Regions from separate parts of the Homo sapiens genome. Here region 2 is linked to region 1. The links come from fine-mapping of genetic effects on gene expression. A gene starts in region 1. The other region holds a variant in brackets. All regions are shown on one strand. Distances are between the middles of the regions. Region 1 holds the start of PKMYT1 (protein kinase, membrane associated tyrosine/threonine 1). Region 2 overlaps GREP1 (glycine rich extracellular protein 1).

What was found. PIP is the estimated chance that this variant, and not a neighbour inherited with it, causes the effect.
Region 2: its variant is fine-mapped to the expression of PKMYT1 in cerebellar hemisphere (GTEx, PIP 0.98).

What each region holds. Positions count from the first base shown.
Region 1 is chr16:2,975,725-2,984,041 of GRCh38, forward strand. It overlaps PKMYT1 (protein kinase, membrane associated tyrosine/threonine 1), which reads right to left and starts at 4,722. Exons shown (of 9, transcript NM_004203.5): 1 at 4,562-4,722; 2 at 3,924-4,188; 3 at 940-1,307; 4 at 1-88. The coding sequence starts at 3,933. RefSeq lists enhancers at 3,412-4,288, 4,289-5,164, 5,165-6,041, 7,086-7,587 and silencers at 4,456-4,685, 4,696-5,055, 7,708-7,757, 7,998-8,057, 8,012-8,198.
Region 2 is chr16:2,999,691-3,008,007 of GRCh38, forward strand. It overlaps GREP1 (glycine rich extracellular protein 1), which reads left to right. Exons shown (of 29, transcript NM_001396456.1): 25 at 212-253; 26 at 396-428; 27 at 1,024-1,137; 28 at 1,591-1,644; 29 at 1,871-2,321. The coding sequence ends at 1,896. Among named protein-coding and RNA genes, the nearest start is that of CLDN9, 9.1 kb to the right of the region's middle. RefSeq lists enhancers at 1,790-2,326, 4,073-5,031, 4,178-4,472, 6,278-6,572, 7,908-8,317 and silencers at 4,137-4,430, 4,178-4,472, 4,417-4,516, 4,527-4,616. The variant C/G (reference allele first, on the strand shown) is at 4,320.

The sequences.
Region 1 (8,317 bases):
CCAACTTGCGGGCCCGGTCCTTGGGGCCCCGGAATGGTGACATGGAACGCTTTACCGCATAGAGCCGGCCGTCCTCCTTGGAGCGCACCTGGAAGGGAGGTGGTACCCACGCACACAGTGAGGGTGAGCCACAAGTGGCACAATCACATAGGGGGACAACCTGGCAGACCCCATTAAGGGTTCACACACGGGGCACGGTGGTGTAGCTGGCATCTGTCTCAGACCCCTGCCCAGGGTAATAACAAAACCAGACAAACCTCCATCCCTCGGGCTGGGTCTGTGGAGACCCAGCGACGGAGGAGCCAGGGCCGACCTGCACTGACCCCAGGGGACCTCTTGGATGTGTCACGAGGTGGAAAAAGCAGCTGCAGAGCAACACAGGCAGCCCAGGCTGTGGTGTGAAAAGTGGGCTCCCCTGTGAGAAAGCTGACCTGGGGGCCAATGTTGTTTGTACTTTTTAACAAAATTGTCTTCATACAGGACTCATACAAGGGAAAACTCCTCTCTAAAAGAAAATATAAATGACTGGAAACTGTGTTTAAGAAAAGCAAGATGGCAGGCAGGGGGTAGCTCAAAGCCTGCCAGCCTGGGGAGGGCTGGCCAGGCACTGCACTCAGGGCCAGTGCCAGAGGCTGGGCCGACTCGCCAAGGACGCTGCACAGCTGGCGCCAGGGCCGGAGGAGATGGCACAGGGGCTGCTGCAGGGCGTGCCAGACTCTGGACAAGGGGCCAGTATGCACAGAGCAACCCCTGGAGGGGCCTGCATTGGGGATGATGGGAGCAGCCAAGTCAAATGTGGAGGGAGCCTGTGAGCCCAGCAGGGACAGGCTGTAGGGAACGGAAGGGGATCAGGCTGCCCAGGACACTGTCCTGCCAAGGGAGGTGCAGAAACACAAAGGAGGTCCCCCAGATGGGCCTAGAAGCCGTCCCCTCACTCACCTTGAAGACCTCTCCGTAGGAGCCATGGCCCAGGCGGCTGAGCCTCTGGAAGCTCTGCTGGAAGAAGGACTCTGGCCGGCTTGGGTCATACCCAGGGCTCTGCAGAGTCTCTGAGGCCTCGCCCCGGAATGACACCCGCCGGGGCTGCAGCTGGTGCCAGCCTGGGGTCCGAGGAGGGAAGAGGCGGCTGATGGGAATGCTGCCCTTGGCAGGGGGCGGAGGTGGGAGGCTCCGGCTGAGCCCCCTGGGCCTCTTGAGGGAGAATCCAGGTTCTGCGTGGCGGAAGTAGGCTGGGACTGGGATGGGGGTGCCACTCAGAGGTGGCGGGGTGCCCTCCGTGGGCATGGGCATGGCCAGTGCAGGAGGCCCTGGGGGCAGAGACAGAGGCTGAGTACAGGGCAGCATGTCCACTCTGATACCACCTGGCCCTGTGGCTCCAAAGAGGCCACAGAAGAGAGCTATGTCTATACCACACACTTATTCTACTTTAAACGGCAATGGGAGCAATAAGCACCTACCAAGAAAAGGCAGAGGACAGATTCATACTCACCTGCCCACCAGGCTGTTGTATTTTAGAGATGATAGAAACATAAGAGGAAAACCATGGGGCCCGTGTTCTTGAGGGTCTTGCAGTCGGGTTAAGAGCAAGGCAGTTTGGAGTCAGACGGGCTGCGCCTGCATCCCTGCCCTCATCACGGCCAGCTCTTTGATCCTAAACTACACAACCTCTTCCGAGACTACACGGGCCCACGATCCCTTATCTCCAATTCCAAAGTGAAAACCCGGAATCCCTCAAGTGTCTTTCTTTTTCATAACTGTCGTGCCAAAACCCAGTTAGTGGTGTCCACTTCCAGAATGGCAGTGTGTGCAGCTCCGTGGACCCCTGCCCCAGTGAAACAGCACAACTGATGACGATTATTCAAAAGCAAGCACTGAAAGCCTCTGGGCATGGTGCCCAGGGCACACAGCAAACAAAGGTTTACACAAGAAAACCTGCCAAGGCCTGGGAATAATGGCAAGCCTGTTGGCACCTGAGCCATGACACTCCTGCCCTCCCACCTCCAGCACCCCTCTCCCCCCGCCTAGCACTGGGGGCAGGTGTGGCCAAGAAGAAGGGCTCCCTCTCCCCCAGCTCCCCGTCAAGGGTTAGGGTGTTTGCCCAGGAGGGCCAGGTTCTCAGCACTTCTCAACCCTCCCAGCTCCACATGGCAGAGGCTAAATTCCAGCTGAGTGTGGCAGACAGGCCAGGGGCTCCTTTCTTCCACCTGCCCCCAAGCATAGAATAGAGGCTATATCTCAGGCCCGGCAGGCTGGGAACATGGAGCCCCAGCTCATTTGTAGGAAGGAGGCTCCACACTGGGAGAGGGCAACCAAGAAGGCCAGAGGCTCCTGCCCAACCCAGCGACCTGCTCCTAAAGCAATAGCAGCACTCAGAGAGGTGCCCCGCTGTCCTGCCCCCAGTTCCACAGCATGGCTCAGACAGAGATTTAGCCTAGGGGTAGACGTAGGTCATAAATAGAGCTCTCCCCACCCACCAACCCCCTGAAAATTGGCTTGATTTGAAACAGTGCGTAGGGAAGTTCAAGTTTAAAGGGGCTGTCAAAATCAGTGGAAGTTTTGGTGGTGCGCCATTAAGAAGAGACTGGTACCCGCATTAGGGCAACCAGCTGAACCATAGGCCAGCTAGTTTACCACAGAGAAGTGGAGAAAGAGCTAGCTAGGAAGAGCCTGCCTGCTGTCAGAACAAACCTCACTGACCTCAAAAGCCACCCTGTCAAAGGAGCTCAAAATTAATTGGATCTGGCCAGGCACAGTGGCTCATGCCTGTAATCCCAGCATTTTAGGAGGCTGAGGTGAGTAAATCACCTGAGGTGAGGAGTTCGAGTCCAGCCTGGCCAACATGGTGAAACCCCATCTCTACTAAAAATACAAAAATTAGCTGGGTGTGGTGGTGCATGCCTGTAGTCCCAGCTACTCGGGAGGCTGAGGCAGGGGAATTGCTTGAACCTGGGAGGCAGAGATTACAGTGAGCCAAGATCATGCCACTGCACTCCAGCCTGGGCAACAGAGCGAGACTCTGTCTCAAAAAAAAAAAAAAATTTAATTGGATTGGACCGTGGAACACTTTATGCCCCAAGGTATTGTTTGTTTGTTTGTTTTTGAGACAGGGTCTCACTCTGTTGCCCAGGCTGGAGTGCAGTGGTATGATCTCGGCCCACTGCAGCCTCCGACTCCCAGGTTCAAGTAATTCTCTTGCCTCAGCCTCCTGAGTAGCTGGGATTACAGGCGTGTGCCAACACACTAGAATAATTTTTATATTTTTAGTAGAGATGTGGTTTCACCATGTTGGTGAGGCTGGTGCACCAAAGTATTATAAAAAACAATAGAGCGGCTGGGTGTGGTGGCTCACGCCTGTAATCCCAGCACTTCGGGAGGCAAGGTGGGTGGATCACTTGAGGTCAAGACTTCGAGACCAGCCTGGCCTACATGGTGAAACCCCATCTCTACTAAAGATACAAATTTTTGCCGGGCGTGCTGGTGCATGCCTGTAGTCCCAGCTACTCAGAGGCTGAGGCAGGAGAAATGCTTGAACCCAGGAGGTGGAAGTTGCGGTGAGCCGAGATTGCGGCATTGCACTCCAACTGGGCGACAAGAGCAAAACTCCATCTCAAAAAAATATACATAATAGTAAATAAAAAATTAAAAAGAGCAGTCTCCAGTACCTGAGGGAGTACAGGGGTGAGGGGAGCGATGCTACCTGGGCCTGGCTGGCAGGCTGCCCTCCATCTTGTGGAGACTCTTCCTCTGACTCTAACTACCTCAGAGTCCCAGCCCAGGGTTTCTCCAAGTCAGGAGCCAGGGTGTTGGGATCCTGGAGGTCACTGGTCACAAGCACAGCCTCCAGGCCCAACCCTGGCACACTCGGGGACCTGGGCCTGTGCATCTTAACCCAGTTCTCCCACCGTCCCTGCCCTACGACTTACGTTCTAGCATGACTGGCCTGGCCCAACAGCCTCAGTGGTGGGACGGGGGAGGCAGGAGCAGGGGCTCCCACGTGAATCCAGGGTGTCCCTGAGCTAAGGCCAGGCGGGGGTGACCTCCGCAGCTTCCGGGGCCCTGGGCGATCGGGCCGTCTCGCCTCACCCTCTCACCAGGCCCGACACATCTGCTGGCCACCTTTCCCGGTAGACGGTAAGTTCCTCCCAGGCAGGGCCGCGGCTGACTTCACTCCGTGGGTGTGGGGAAGCCCTGGCGAACAGAGCAGTGGACGGGCTGTCACGAGGGAAGAGGGGCTGTTGCAGAAGAAGAGAGGCTGTCCCGGGGCAGGGGCTGTCACGGAGGAAGGACTGTCACGGGGAGGGCGGCGGCGCGGGGTTGATGGACAGCAGGCGGGGTCTCCGGGAGGGGCGAGTAGGGCGGGACCGCCGCTGGGAAGGGGCTCGAGGCAAGGGAACCAGGAATTGGGGAGGACGGGAGGCAGGGGCTCGCGGGGGCGGGCCTGAGGGGACGCGAGCGGGCCGCCGGGGAGGCCTGAGGGGCAGGGGTAACGCAGACCTGGCGAGGCGGAGGGGAGCGGCGAGGTGGCCACGCCGAGGCCCCTCACGGCGGGGTCTGGGCTCACCTGGGGCGACTGGGCGGGGCGCGGGTCCGCGAGGGCCCAGATTCCGGGTCCGCGGAGGCCACGGGACCCCTCGGGTGGCTCAGCGGGCCGGAGTCTGCCGTCGACTGTTCCGGACGCCCGGGCGGAGGACTCCCGTGAGGGGGAACGGCCCGTGAACGCGCGCGGAGCTGCTCGCGCCAAAAATTCCAAACCGGCCTCGAGGCTCCTCCCCCTCCCCAGTGCAGCCCGTCAGGGGTGCCCGGGCTCCGAGGCTCCGCCCCTCGTGCTGCGTGCGCGCCGCCGAGCCGCCCCGCCGCTCACTGCGCAGGCGCACAGGATTCTCCGCGCTGGCCCGGGGCGTGGGTGGCGGCCTGGTTCTGAGTCGCTGCGCGGGGCTTCAGCCGCCCAGTCCCTGGGACGCCCACTGCCCTCCAGGCCTCGCACCCGACACCCACCGCCCTCGCTGGGCTGGCGTAGTGTTTGGGTCCATAAAAGGGACCGCCATCCCGGTGCTCGGAGCAGGCGTAGCCCCAGGGTTACTCCGGGTAGGACCAGGAAGTCCCTACGGCCTCCTGGGTCCCGGCACCCCCCTTCTCACTCCGGCCGTGTTCTGAACCAGGGTCGCGGTGGGAGGCCAGACGCACGACCCCCAACCCCTAGCGCACGGCTTCGGGAGCCAGAAAAAGCCGCCTCTTCCAGGAAGCTCTCCAGATAGGCAGGACTCTGCTTGGCCTGACCTCGCCTGCCTGCAGCTTCCCTGCCAACAGGCCTCAGATACTTTTTTTTTTTTTTTTAGACAGGGTCTCACTGTCACCAAGGCTGGAATGCAGTGGTGCAGTCCCCAGGTTCAGGCGGTTCTCCCAACCTCAGCCTGCCGAGTATGTGAGATCACAGGCGCGCGCCACCGCACTCGGCTCATGTATTTTATTTTTAGACAGGGTCTCATTCTGTTGTCCAGGCTGGAGTGCAGTGGGGCGATCTCGACTCACTGTAACTTCCGCCTCCCCCGCTCAAGCGTTCCTCCCACCTCAGCCTCCTGAGTAGCTGGGACCACAGGCGCGCGCCACCACACCCAACTAATTTTTGCATTTTTTTGTAGAGACGGTGTTTTACCATGTTGGCCAAGCTAGTGTCGAACTTCTGACCTCAAGCGATCCGCCCGCCTCGGCCTCCCAGAAGGCTGGGATTACAGGCGTGAGCCACCGCGATTGGCCGCAGGATCATAGTTCACTGCAGCCTCGAGCAGCCACTTCCGGGGCAGCTCCTCCATTCTCTGAGTTTGAGACTTGCTCTCAGCTCAGATCCCTTCAGCGCTCTCCTGGCTGAACGACCTTGGGAATGCACTGAGCCTTTCTGAGCTTCGGATTAGTCTCCTCTCCTGGAAAAAAAAAAACAGCTGAGGACGCTGGGATGATCCCCTAAAGTGATTAGCAGGGGCCCTCGCGGAGCAAGTCGGGCTAGGGATTGTTCCTTCCCTCACCGAGGGGCTCTTTATCTGTTTAACTGGGTGGGAGGAGTACGCTTCCGGCCAACCCTCCCCCAAACGCTGGCCTTCTCACTCTCACCTCTCCTTCCGCCTTATTTTTGCTATTGCCCTGATCTCTGTCCGATGTTCTATCTTTTGTTTGTGAGTTTACTTGTTGACTACCTGCTCCTTCTAGCCCTGGCCTCCAGAACCAGTCCCCCAAACCCTCCATCCTCCCCAAGTCTCTGACAGGTCATGGACTGCAAAGCTTCCCACCCATTCAGTTCCTGCACCCTCTGTAAACGTTCTGTGCATGGAGCAGCAGTGTGGGGGAGGAGAGGCTGGGATCCTGGCTGGGGGCGGCAGCCCACCTGCCTGCACCTTTCCTTGTCCTTCGCATCTCTGGCGGCTGTGCCCCAGTGACTCAGGCAGGATCCTTGTTGATGACTCCAGACTGGCCCCCAGGAGGCCTGGGGCACACACAGGCCCCTCCCCAGCTGCCTAGGGCTACCTCTGCCAGCCCCATCTCCCCAACAGGTCCCCTTCCAACCGCCCATTTTTTAAAGTCTGATTCACAATGATAATTAAAAAAAAAAAAAAAAAAGCATGGAAACACATGCTTCCGATGTAAATTTCACTGTGTGAGGAAAGGCTGTAATATAAATATATGTAAATGGAAATAAGTAGATGGAGCAGATAAGTGCGTGGTGTGAGGGAAACTAGGGCTGCGATCCTGCCTGCCCCAGTTTCTGCGTGTGTAAAATGGGGATAAAAATAATAGTTTTCTAGACTAGGCAACATAGCAAGGCCCTGTCTCAAGAAAGAAAAAAGAAAGAAAAGGAAGGGAAGAAAGGGAAAGAAAAAGAGAAAGAAAGAAAGGAAAGGAAAGGAAGGAAGGAAAGAAAGGGAGAGAAAAAAAGAAAAGAAAGAAGAAATAAAGCAGTGAGGCACAGTGGTACACACCTGTAGTCCCAGCTCCTCAGGAGGCTGGAGTAGGAGGATCACTTGATCCCTGGAGTTAAAGGCCGCAGTGAGGGCCGGGTGCAGTGGCTCATGCTGGTAACCCCAGCAGTTTGGGAGGCTGAGGCAGGTGGATCACTTGAGCTCAGGAGTTCGAGACCAGGCTGGCCAATATGGTGAAACCCCTTCTCTACTAAAAATACAAAAATTAGCTGGGTGTGATGGCAGGCGCTTGTAATCCCAGCTACTCGGGAGGCTGAGGCAGAATTGCTTGAACCTGGGAGGCAGAGGTTGCAGTGAGCCCACATCGCACCACTGCACTCCAACCTGGGTGACAAGAGCGAGACTCTGTCTCAAAAAAAAAAAAAAAAAAAAAGGCTGCAGTGAGCCTGGGCAACAGAGTGAGACCCTGTAAAAAATATAAAGTGATAATAATAGTAGTTCCTCCTTCCTCGGGGAGTATGAGCACCACATGAGAAAATGCCTGTGAAGTGCTTAGCACAGAGCCGAACACACAGTAGGGGCTTACTCATTGTTTCAGAATAACAGGCTGGGCGAGGTGGTCACGCCTGTAATCCCAGCAATTTGGCAGGCTGAGGCGGGCAGGTCACTTGAGCTCAGAAGTTAGAGACCAGCCTGGGCAATATGGCAAAACCCTGTCTCTACAAAACATTCAAAAATTAGCTGGGCATGGTGGTGTGTACCTGTGCTCCCAGCTAGTCAAGAGGGTGAGGTGGGAGGATCGCTTGAGCCCAGGAGGTGGATGCTGCAGTGTGCCGAGATGGCGCCACTGCACTCCAGCCTGGGCGACAGAGCGAGACTCGGTCTCAAATTAATAATAATAATAATAATAATAATAATAATAATAATAATAATAAAATAGTAAGACCCCCTCATCTGTACAGTCTGTTGCAGTTTTCAACGCTGCAGTCTGGGCCAAAAAGAGGCCCCAGGAGGAAAGAAGCCCGGACTCCTCTAACCACCTTGGGGTCACAGGGACCGAGGCACGGGCCCACAGGGTTCCGGACCAAAGCGCTTTGCCGACCTCCTTCCAGGAGGAATCCTCCCAGCCGCCGCCCAGGCACCCGGTTCCCGCGAGTCCCACCCGCGCGACCAGGCGCGGGCCGCGCGCGCCCCCGTGTGTCCCGTCGCCGCCACAGCACCCGCGGCTCCGCCCAGACTCTCCAAGGAAGACTCACTCATGCGGTTTCGGCCACAAAAGGAAAGGCGAGGCCGGGCGCGGTGGCTCACGCCTGTAATCCTAGCACTTTGGGTGGCCGAGACGAGCGGATCACCTGAGGTCAGGAGTTTGAGACCAGCCTGGCTAACATGGTGAAACGCCGATTCTACTA
Region 2 (8,317 bases), 24 kb after region 1:
ATCAGCCCACCTCAGCCTCCCAAAGTGCTGGGATTACAGGCGTGAGCCACTGCGCCCAGTCTCTTGCTGCTCTCCAGATTTCTTCTGGTTCCATTCCCTGTGGACAGGAAAAGTCTCTGCTTCCCCTTCAGAGTCCCTAAGGTCGATCTTTGGCCTCCAAGGAGTCAGGGGAGACCTGGGTCCCCCGCACTGACTTCCTTTCTCCTCACAGGGCACCAGCCTCCAAATGGCTATGGACCGGGAGCAGAACCAGGTGAGGAGGCCCTTCCTGGAGTTCCTCCCCTCCCTTCCCTTCCTCTTCCCTCCTCTTCCTTCTGCCATCCCAGGAAGAGGGGAGGCCAGGGCTGTGGCTCTCGCTGACCCCCATCTCTGAGTCACAGTTTTCTCTCCCCCAGGTTTTAATGGTGGCCTCGAGCCACAGAAAATTGGTGAGTCCTCCTGGGCCCCCGACCCATGTTGAGCGGAAGCTGGCATCTCCCTCATGCCTGAGTCAGTCTGTCTGTCCGCATCCCCCTGTCTATGAGCTGGTCACCTGGCCCTCCTGATGCTGTCCCTGTTCCACTAGCCTGTCCCTAGCTCCTCTCCAATCTCTGTCCTGCAGGTTTAGGTTATGGGAATGGTGTCCTGGGAGCCAGGGTCTTCCCCGAGGCCCACCCACAGCCAGGTGCCTGGGGAGCAGGGGTCGGGGTGGGAGAGTTGGGCTCAGGGCCCCAGCCCAGCCTCTGACACCCTCTTTCCTCCTCCAGGGTTCCATGGGGCCAATGGTTTTAGGAATAGTGAGTCAGACCCAGGGGACAAAGTGCAGTGGAGTGGGGGAGACAACAGCCCAGGGGCTAGGCGGGAATGACCAGAGTCTCTTGGAGGGGATGGGGTGGAAGCTCTGGTGTACCCCAAAGCAGCAGCTCTAGCCCCTGAAGGAAATGGTAAGAAATGAGCCTTCTGGGAGCAGAGCCAAGCCCAACAGGGGCCAGGGGTCCCAGCTCCTGTGGGCAAGGGTACCCCTGCCAGCTCTCCTCCCCACAGGGCAGGCCGGGGTGCTGTGGAACTCTCGCTGGCCCACCCTCCAGGCCTGGGGGGCCGGCTTGAAGCCTGGATATCAGGCTGGAGATGAATATGCTGAGGCCAGGAGCCAGCCAGGTAACGGGATGCCTGGATGAGTGTGTTGGGGCCATTAGAGGTGGCTTCAGGGAACTGGGCCCTGGGCCCAGGTCTACCCACAGCCCCACAGAGATAGAAGGTACAGCCCTCTTGGCGGAGGGGATGGAGTGAGTGAGAAGAGGCCAGGAGGGCATAGGCAGGAAGGAGCAGGAAGGAATGGAGCTGGAGGAGAGGCCAGAAGAGCCCGGGACCCTGAGAGCCAGCCCAGACACTGGACCAAGAAGGGGAGGTGATGGAGTTGGGAACGAGGGCCATCACGGACTCAGTTCTCCATACTCTGTCCCTCTCCCCCCGGTCCTCTGAGAAACTGAGGCAGAGCTGAGCCCTGGGCCCTCCGGGGAGGGGGTGTCTCCCACAGCCTGGGTTGAAGCTGGGGTGGACGGAAGCTCTCTGGTGACCCGAGTGCTCCTGGTCTGTCTGTCTGTGCCACAGGGGGCCCCGACGTGAAGAGAGGCAGCAATGGCCAGCTGGGGAATGGCTACGGAGGTGAGAGGGAGGCGCAATGGCCGAGCCGCCTGCCCAAAGGCCCCCCGTGGTCACCCCTCCAGCCATACTGGGGGACACCCAGCCCTTGGGAAGGATAGCAGGTTCTGCCACCTGTAGGTGGCTGCTGAGTGACTGACCCCAGAAGCTCAGGTCCCTGGGAGGGGAGGAGGGGGCAAGGCCTCACCAGGGCCCCGCCCCTCCCTAGCCCAGCTCTATGTCTTCCCAGGCCGCTGCCCTCTGGGGAAATGCTGAGCACTGCAATGCCCCTCGCCTGCCCAGCAAGGAAGACAGACCCTTGGGCTTGGCCTCTGGTGCTGCCTGGCCGGGGGTCTCCTCCATGCTAGAACCACAAACGTGCTTCCCTGCTTGCCTCCGCGTGCCATGCAAGGGGCTTGCTGACCAGGGTGGGAGTGGCATGGGCCTGCAGCCACCACCCAGCACCTCATTCATTCATTTGGCAAACATCAATGAGGCCATGTGCCAGGGACCATGTTCCCAACAGGAGAAATCATGAGAAGAAAACAGACTCGATCAACGCCTGCCCTCAGGGAGGGCATCACTTGGTGACCGCCTAGCGGGGGAACCACATCCAAGTTAGGGGCCTTGTGCATGGAAAAGAACACTTCATTCTTTGTGTTTTCATTTATAATCGATTTATTAAAGTTGTTAGATAAAAATCTCATTTTCCTTAAGCTTTTATAGTGGCCTTCCAGATATTGTATTGACTAATAATTTGGATGTAAAACTCACTTTCACAATCTTTGATGAATGCTTAATTAGTTTATAAATTTCACAGCTCGGCCAGGCATGGTGGGTCACGCCTGTAATCCCAGTATTTTGGGAGGCCAAGGCAGGAGGATTGCTTGAGCCTACAATTTAAAGACCAGCCTGGGCAATATAGTGAGACCCCCATCTCTATAAAAAATAAATAAGTAAATAAAAACAAATACGAATTTCACAACTCGACTTTTCCCTAAATATTTTGCGTGCCTTAAATGCCTGATTAACGAAATAGCCTTAGACATCTCAAACAACAATTAGAAACATAATCGACTTGACTCTCTTGATTCTCTCTCTCTTTTTTTTTTTTTTGAGACGGAGTCTCGCTCTGTCGCCCAGGCTAGAGTGCAGTGGCGCAATCTCGGCTCACTGCAAGCTCCCCCTCCCGGGTTCATGCCATTCTCCTTCCTCAGCCTCCCAAGTAGCTGGGACTACAGGCGCCTGCCCAGCTAAGTTTTTGTACTTTTAGTAGAGTCGGGGTTTCACCATGTTAGCCAGGATGGTCTGGATCTCCTCCTGACCTCGTGATCCGCCCGCCTCGGCCTCCCAAAGTGCTGTGATTACAGGCGTGAGCCACCGCACCCGGCGACTCCCATCTCCACAAATAAAAAACTTAGCCTGGCAGGGTGGCGCATGCCTGTAGTCTCAGCTACTTGGGAGGCTGAGGTGAGAGGATTACTTGAGCCGAGGAGATCGAGGCTGCAGTGAGCCATGATGGCACTACTGCACTCCAGCATGGGCGAAAGAGCAAGATCCTGTCTCAAAAAAAAAAAAAAAAAGTTTCTATATTCCAATTTTGAATAGATTGACCATTTTATCCTTTTTGTTCTGAGCTACCAGATTCGCACCCATCTGTCATTTACAATTGTTCTTAGGAACTTTAACACAAATGCTAAGTATATTATCACCAAACTTTACTTTTGAATTGTGATATCGTTTTATCTTTCTTATAAGATAACTGAATGGAAATCTGTGCACCTTGACCCATCCACACAGGATCCTCATACCTGAGTTGCAATGGGTAAACAGCAACGAGAGGACAATCTCACACTCCACATCGGTGGCGTCGGGGGGCGGGCGCGGTGGGTCATGCCTGGAATCCCAGCACTTTGGAAGACTGAGGCCGGCGGATCGCTTGAGCCCAGGAGTTCGAGACCAGCCTGGGCAACATGGTGAGACTCCATCTCTACACAAAATATAATAATTAGGCCGGGCGCGGTGGCTCACGCCTGTAATCCCAGCACTTTGGCACGCCGAGGCGGGTGCATCATGAGGTCATGAGTTCGAGACCAGCCTGGCCAACATGGCGAAACCCCGTCTCTACTAAAAACACAAAAATTAGCCGGGCATGGTGGCGGGCGCCCGTAATCCCATCTGCTCAGGAGGCTGAGGCAGGAGACTCGTTTGAACCAGGAGGCGGAGGTTGCAGCTGAGACTGCGCCAATGCACTCCAGCCTGGGGGATAGAGCGAGACTCCGTCTAAAAAAAATTTTTTTTTTAAATTTAAAGACCATAATAATTAGCCGGGTGTGGTGGCGTGCACCTGTAGTCCCGGCTACTTGGGGAGGCTGAGGCGGGAGAACTGCTTTAGTCCGGCAGGTCGAGGCTTCACTGAGCCAAGACCGCGCCACTGCAATGTAGCCTGGGCGCCAGAGTGAGGGGCTCAGTCCCCAAAAAAGCCACCTAAAAAACAAACAAAAAAAAAATTGGTGAGGCGCCGCGCCTCGGTGTCGCAGCGAATCCGCAGATCCTCAAGCCAGGTGGGGGCGCCCACTGCGCGTGTGCAGCGCCTGATAGCCAGGCTAGCTGAGGGCGGGGAGCAGCTGCGGCACCTGGGACACAGCGATTGGCTGGGACCAGGAGAGGGCGGGAAGAAGAACTTGGCGGAGCGCGCT[C/G]ATATCTCTGATTGGCTGCCAAGGGTAGCCCTTGACAGCTGCCGGGTGGGACCCGTAGACCGCGAGCGCACTGGCCCGTGATTGGTTGGGGTGCGGCGGCGAGCATCTGCGATTGGCTGGGCCGCTCGGAGTGCGGCGCTTGGCCACCTCCCGAGGTACCAGGTCACGGCTGGCGGCGCGCTCTGGGGCCCTGGGCTGGCGGCCGCAACCGGGGTGGCGGCCGCAGCCAAGCTGGCGGCGCGGCTGCCCCGCTCCAGCTCGCACCCGCGGCTCGCCCGCGCCCGCGCCCACTCGCGATTGGGCCGGGCCCGCTCGACGCTGCCGCCCACCCCGCTGCCCCCGCCGTCCCTGCCGCACCCGCCGTTGCCCGGCCTGCCGCCCGGCCTGAGCCCCGGGCCGCCGACGCCCTCCGCTCTCGCCCTGGCCGAGCTGCCACCGCTGCCCGCGCTCCCGCTGCGGCCCGAGCCGCTGGCGCCCTGGGGCCCCGGCGCGCATCTGGCACTGCCCGAGCTGCCGCCCGAAGCCTGCTCACCCGCGCTCTCCGCCGCCGTGCTCGCACTGCAGGACCTGCCGCGCCTGCCCGCGCCCGCGCGCTCCGCCCGCGCTCCTACCGCTGCTTCCGCTGCCCGTGTCCGCCGTCGCCTCAGCCCCTGGGCCCGTGGGCGCGCTCGTCCGCCCGCCCCTGGTCTCCGAGCCGCCGCCGCATCCGCTTCCGCCGCTGCCCGCGCGACCCTCTCCCTTCAGCCTGCTGACGGCCCCCGAGACCCGCGACCCATGGCTGCTGTCCGCCTTTCCCCTGCCACCGCCCGTGCCCCTGTCCCCGCATTTCTTCCTGTCGCCGCCCTGCTGACCTGGCCCCTCCCGCGGCGGGTGAGTAGGCAGCCCCCGACAGGGCCAGTGCCCGTAGCCACCTTCCCCGGGCATGGATTCAGAGGACGGGGGTTAGAGCCCAGTTTGGGGAAGAGAGAAGGAGAATCGGAAGCAGCTCAGGTTTGGTAGAGAAAGGAGCGAGTCTGAAAATAGACTTGTCTAAAGATTCGGGTCTTCCATTTTCCCCTGCTGCCCTCCAGCAGGCCTCTTGCTAGGTTATTTGAGAATGTAACCCGTCCCCTGGGCTGATAACCTGGCTAGTGATCAGGGCAGCGGGCGGGGCCCACAGCACGTGTCCAAGGAAATGGGGATCAAGGGTATGAAAACAAAAGTTTAAAGTGCTGGGCCGGGCGCGGTGGCTCCCGCCTATAATCCCAGCACTTTGGGAGGCTGAGGCTGGCGGATCACCTGAGGTCAGGAGTTTGAGACCAGCCTGACCAACATGGAGAAACCCTGTCTCTACTAAAAATACAAAATTAGCCGGGCGTGGTGGCACATGCCTGTAATCCCAGCTACTCGGGAGGCTGAGGCAGGAGAATCGCTTGAACCCGGGAGGCGGAGGTTGGGGTGAGCCGAGATGGTGCCATTGCACTCCAGCCTAGGCAACAAGAGCTAAACTCCGTCTCAAAAAAAAAAAAAAAAGTTTAAAGTGCTTTAACTATATCCAAATATTTCATTTCTCTTATAAATAAAGGGTCTGGATGCCATGGCTAAGGCCATCCTCAGTGTATGGCTCTTGAAAATTCTGATCCTGCCGCAAAAGTCTTTTTTTTTTTTTTTTTTTTTTTGAGACGGAGTTTCGTTCTTGTTGCCCAGGCTGGAGTGCAATGGCATAATCTCGGCTCACCACAGCCTCCGCCTCCTGGGTTCAAGCGATTCTCCTGCCTCAGCCTCCTGAGTAGCTGAGTTTACAGGCATGCGCCACCACGCCCAGCTAATTTTCTATTTTTAGTAGAGACGGGGTTTCTCCATTTTGGTCAGGCTGGTCTCAAACTCCAGACCTCAGGTGATCCGCCCGTCTCCCAAACTGCTGGGATTACAGGCATAAGCCACTGCGCCCGGCCTTTGAAAAGTCTTCAGAAGTCAAATTTTCAACTGAAACAGATCCAGGGGTCGGGCTGGCTGTGCGCACCAGGGAAGCAGTGGTGGGGATCGATACTGGACCCAAGGGTCACATGCAAGGGCTGTGAAGTCATCCCCATGGGACAGGAGAGCTTCCCCCACCCCCACCCGGGCTGGGCCCTGAGAGGAAGCTCCTGTTCTCTCCAGCTTTGCCTGCACCCCACCTGCCAGTTTCTGTGCAGCCTCTACAACTTAATAAAGTTCTCTTTGTTCCCTAGGTGGCCTGAGCTCAGGTAATCAGGCGAAAATTCTTTCTCAGTGGGCTCTTCTCCAGCAGCCTAGGACTGGTATCAGAAAGCCAACCTTGACCCTGGGGGACCTCGGAGAGCCCGGGACCCACCACCAAGAAGGGCAGTGTACTAGTTCTTTGTGACTGCAGTAAAAATTTTATTTTTTAATTTTTTTTATTTTTGGTAGAGATGCGGTTTCACCATGTTAGCCAGGATGGTCTCGATCTCCTGACCTCGTGATCTTCCCGCCTCGGCCTCCCAAAGTGCTGGGATTACAGGCGTGAGCCACCGCGCCCGGCCTGACCGCAGTAGCAAATTTATACACACTGCATGGCTTCAAACAACAGAAATGTATTCGTTACAATTCTGGAGGCCAAAAGTCAAAAATAAAGGTGTGGGCAGGACCCTGTTCCCTTCACAGGTGCTAGGGGAGGATCCCTCCTGCCTCTTCCAGCTCCTGGTGGCTCCAGGCCCTCTGTGGCTTGTGGCCGCATCACAGGAGTTCCTGCCTCCGTCTTCACATGGCCTTCTCCCCATGTCTGTCTCCAATCTCCCTGTTTTTATGTTGTAAGAGGTTGGATTGTCGTTGAAGGTAGGACCCGCCTGAAACCTAGGATAATCTCATTTTGATATCCTTAGTTTAATTACATGTGCAAAGGCCCTTTTATCAAGTGAGGTCACATTCACAGATTCCAGGGCTTAGAGGGTGGAGGTATCATTTTGCGTGCCCCCATCTGGACATGCAGTGTCCTCTCCCCTGTGGGGCTGACCTACCTTCCTAGCCGTCTTCCCAGAACGTAATGTGTCTTAAATCCGTCATGCTGACCTGGGGCCCTGGGTGCCCTTGGGCAGGAGCTGATGGCACTAGTACCTTGATAAAGTTCTTACTGGCACCAGAAGAGAATAAAGTAACTCTCCTTCCCCTTCTCTGACTTATGGCCAGGTGCCCATTCCCACTGGCTTGCCGCTCCCCAGCTCCCTGCGCTTTATATTGTTGAGGCCTCCTCTCTCAGCTAAGAAACAGGAAGTACACAGATGTGTATTCTTAAAGACAGCATTAGCCACGGGGCCCCCACCCTCAAAGGGTGGGAGCGATAACTGCTGCTGGTTGAAACTGACAGTTACTACTGATAATAAAGTTAATTGTTACCCAGTCAGTGGAGTCTGCCCAGGTGTACAAGTGAAACCTCCATTATGCTTTTGACAAAATATGCTTGTCTTGAGTCAATACCCACCTCGATCCCCAAGGTGCCAGTCCAGGGATGTGCCAGGGTTGAAGCAGAGCTGTCTCCTCTCTGCTTTACAGCCAGGAGCACCTGAGGTTTGGGCAGCTGTGACTTGCCCAGGGAGCCCTGGGGTGGGGCTCGCATGAGGTTCTGGGAGTCCAGCCCGCTGCCCCCTGCAAGTGGGGAGCAAAGGGCACTTCCCTTGCCAGGGACATGGCAATGAGAGTGAGCCAGCTGGTGGAGGGGGCCTCTTCCGTAATCAGATCCAAATGCAGTTTTCTGCAGAGGTTTCCCTGTACTGGGAGCCTCGAAGAATTTGGGACAAGGAGGAACGGGATGGTGCTTGGGAGGCCCAGAAGAAGGAGAGGCCCTGCCCCGCTGCCCTGTCGGGAAAGAGGTTCAGGAGGCTCTCTTAGCCCACCTAGGGGGGCTAGCTCCAAAGTCAGGGTCTGGGTTGGTGTCAGGTGTGTCCTGCTTCCCGCTGTGCACTTGGTCAGGTTCGCTCAGCTCCCTGAGCTTGTTCCTGTCTGTGAAGGTGGGCAGTGAGCCC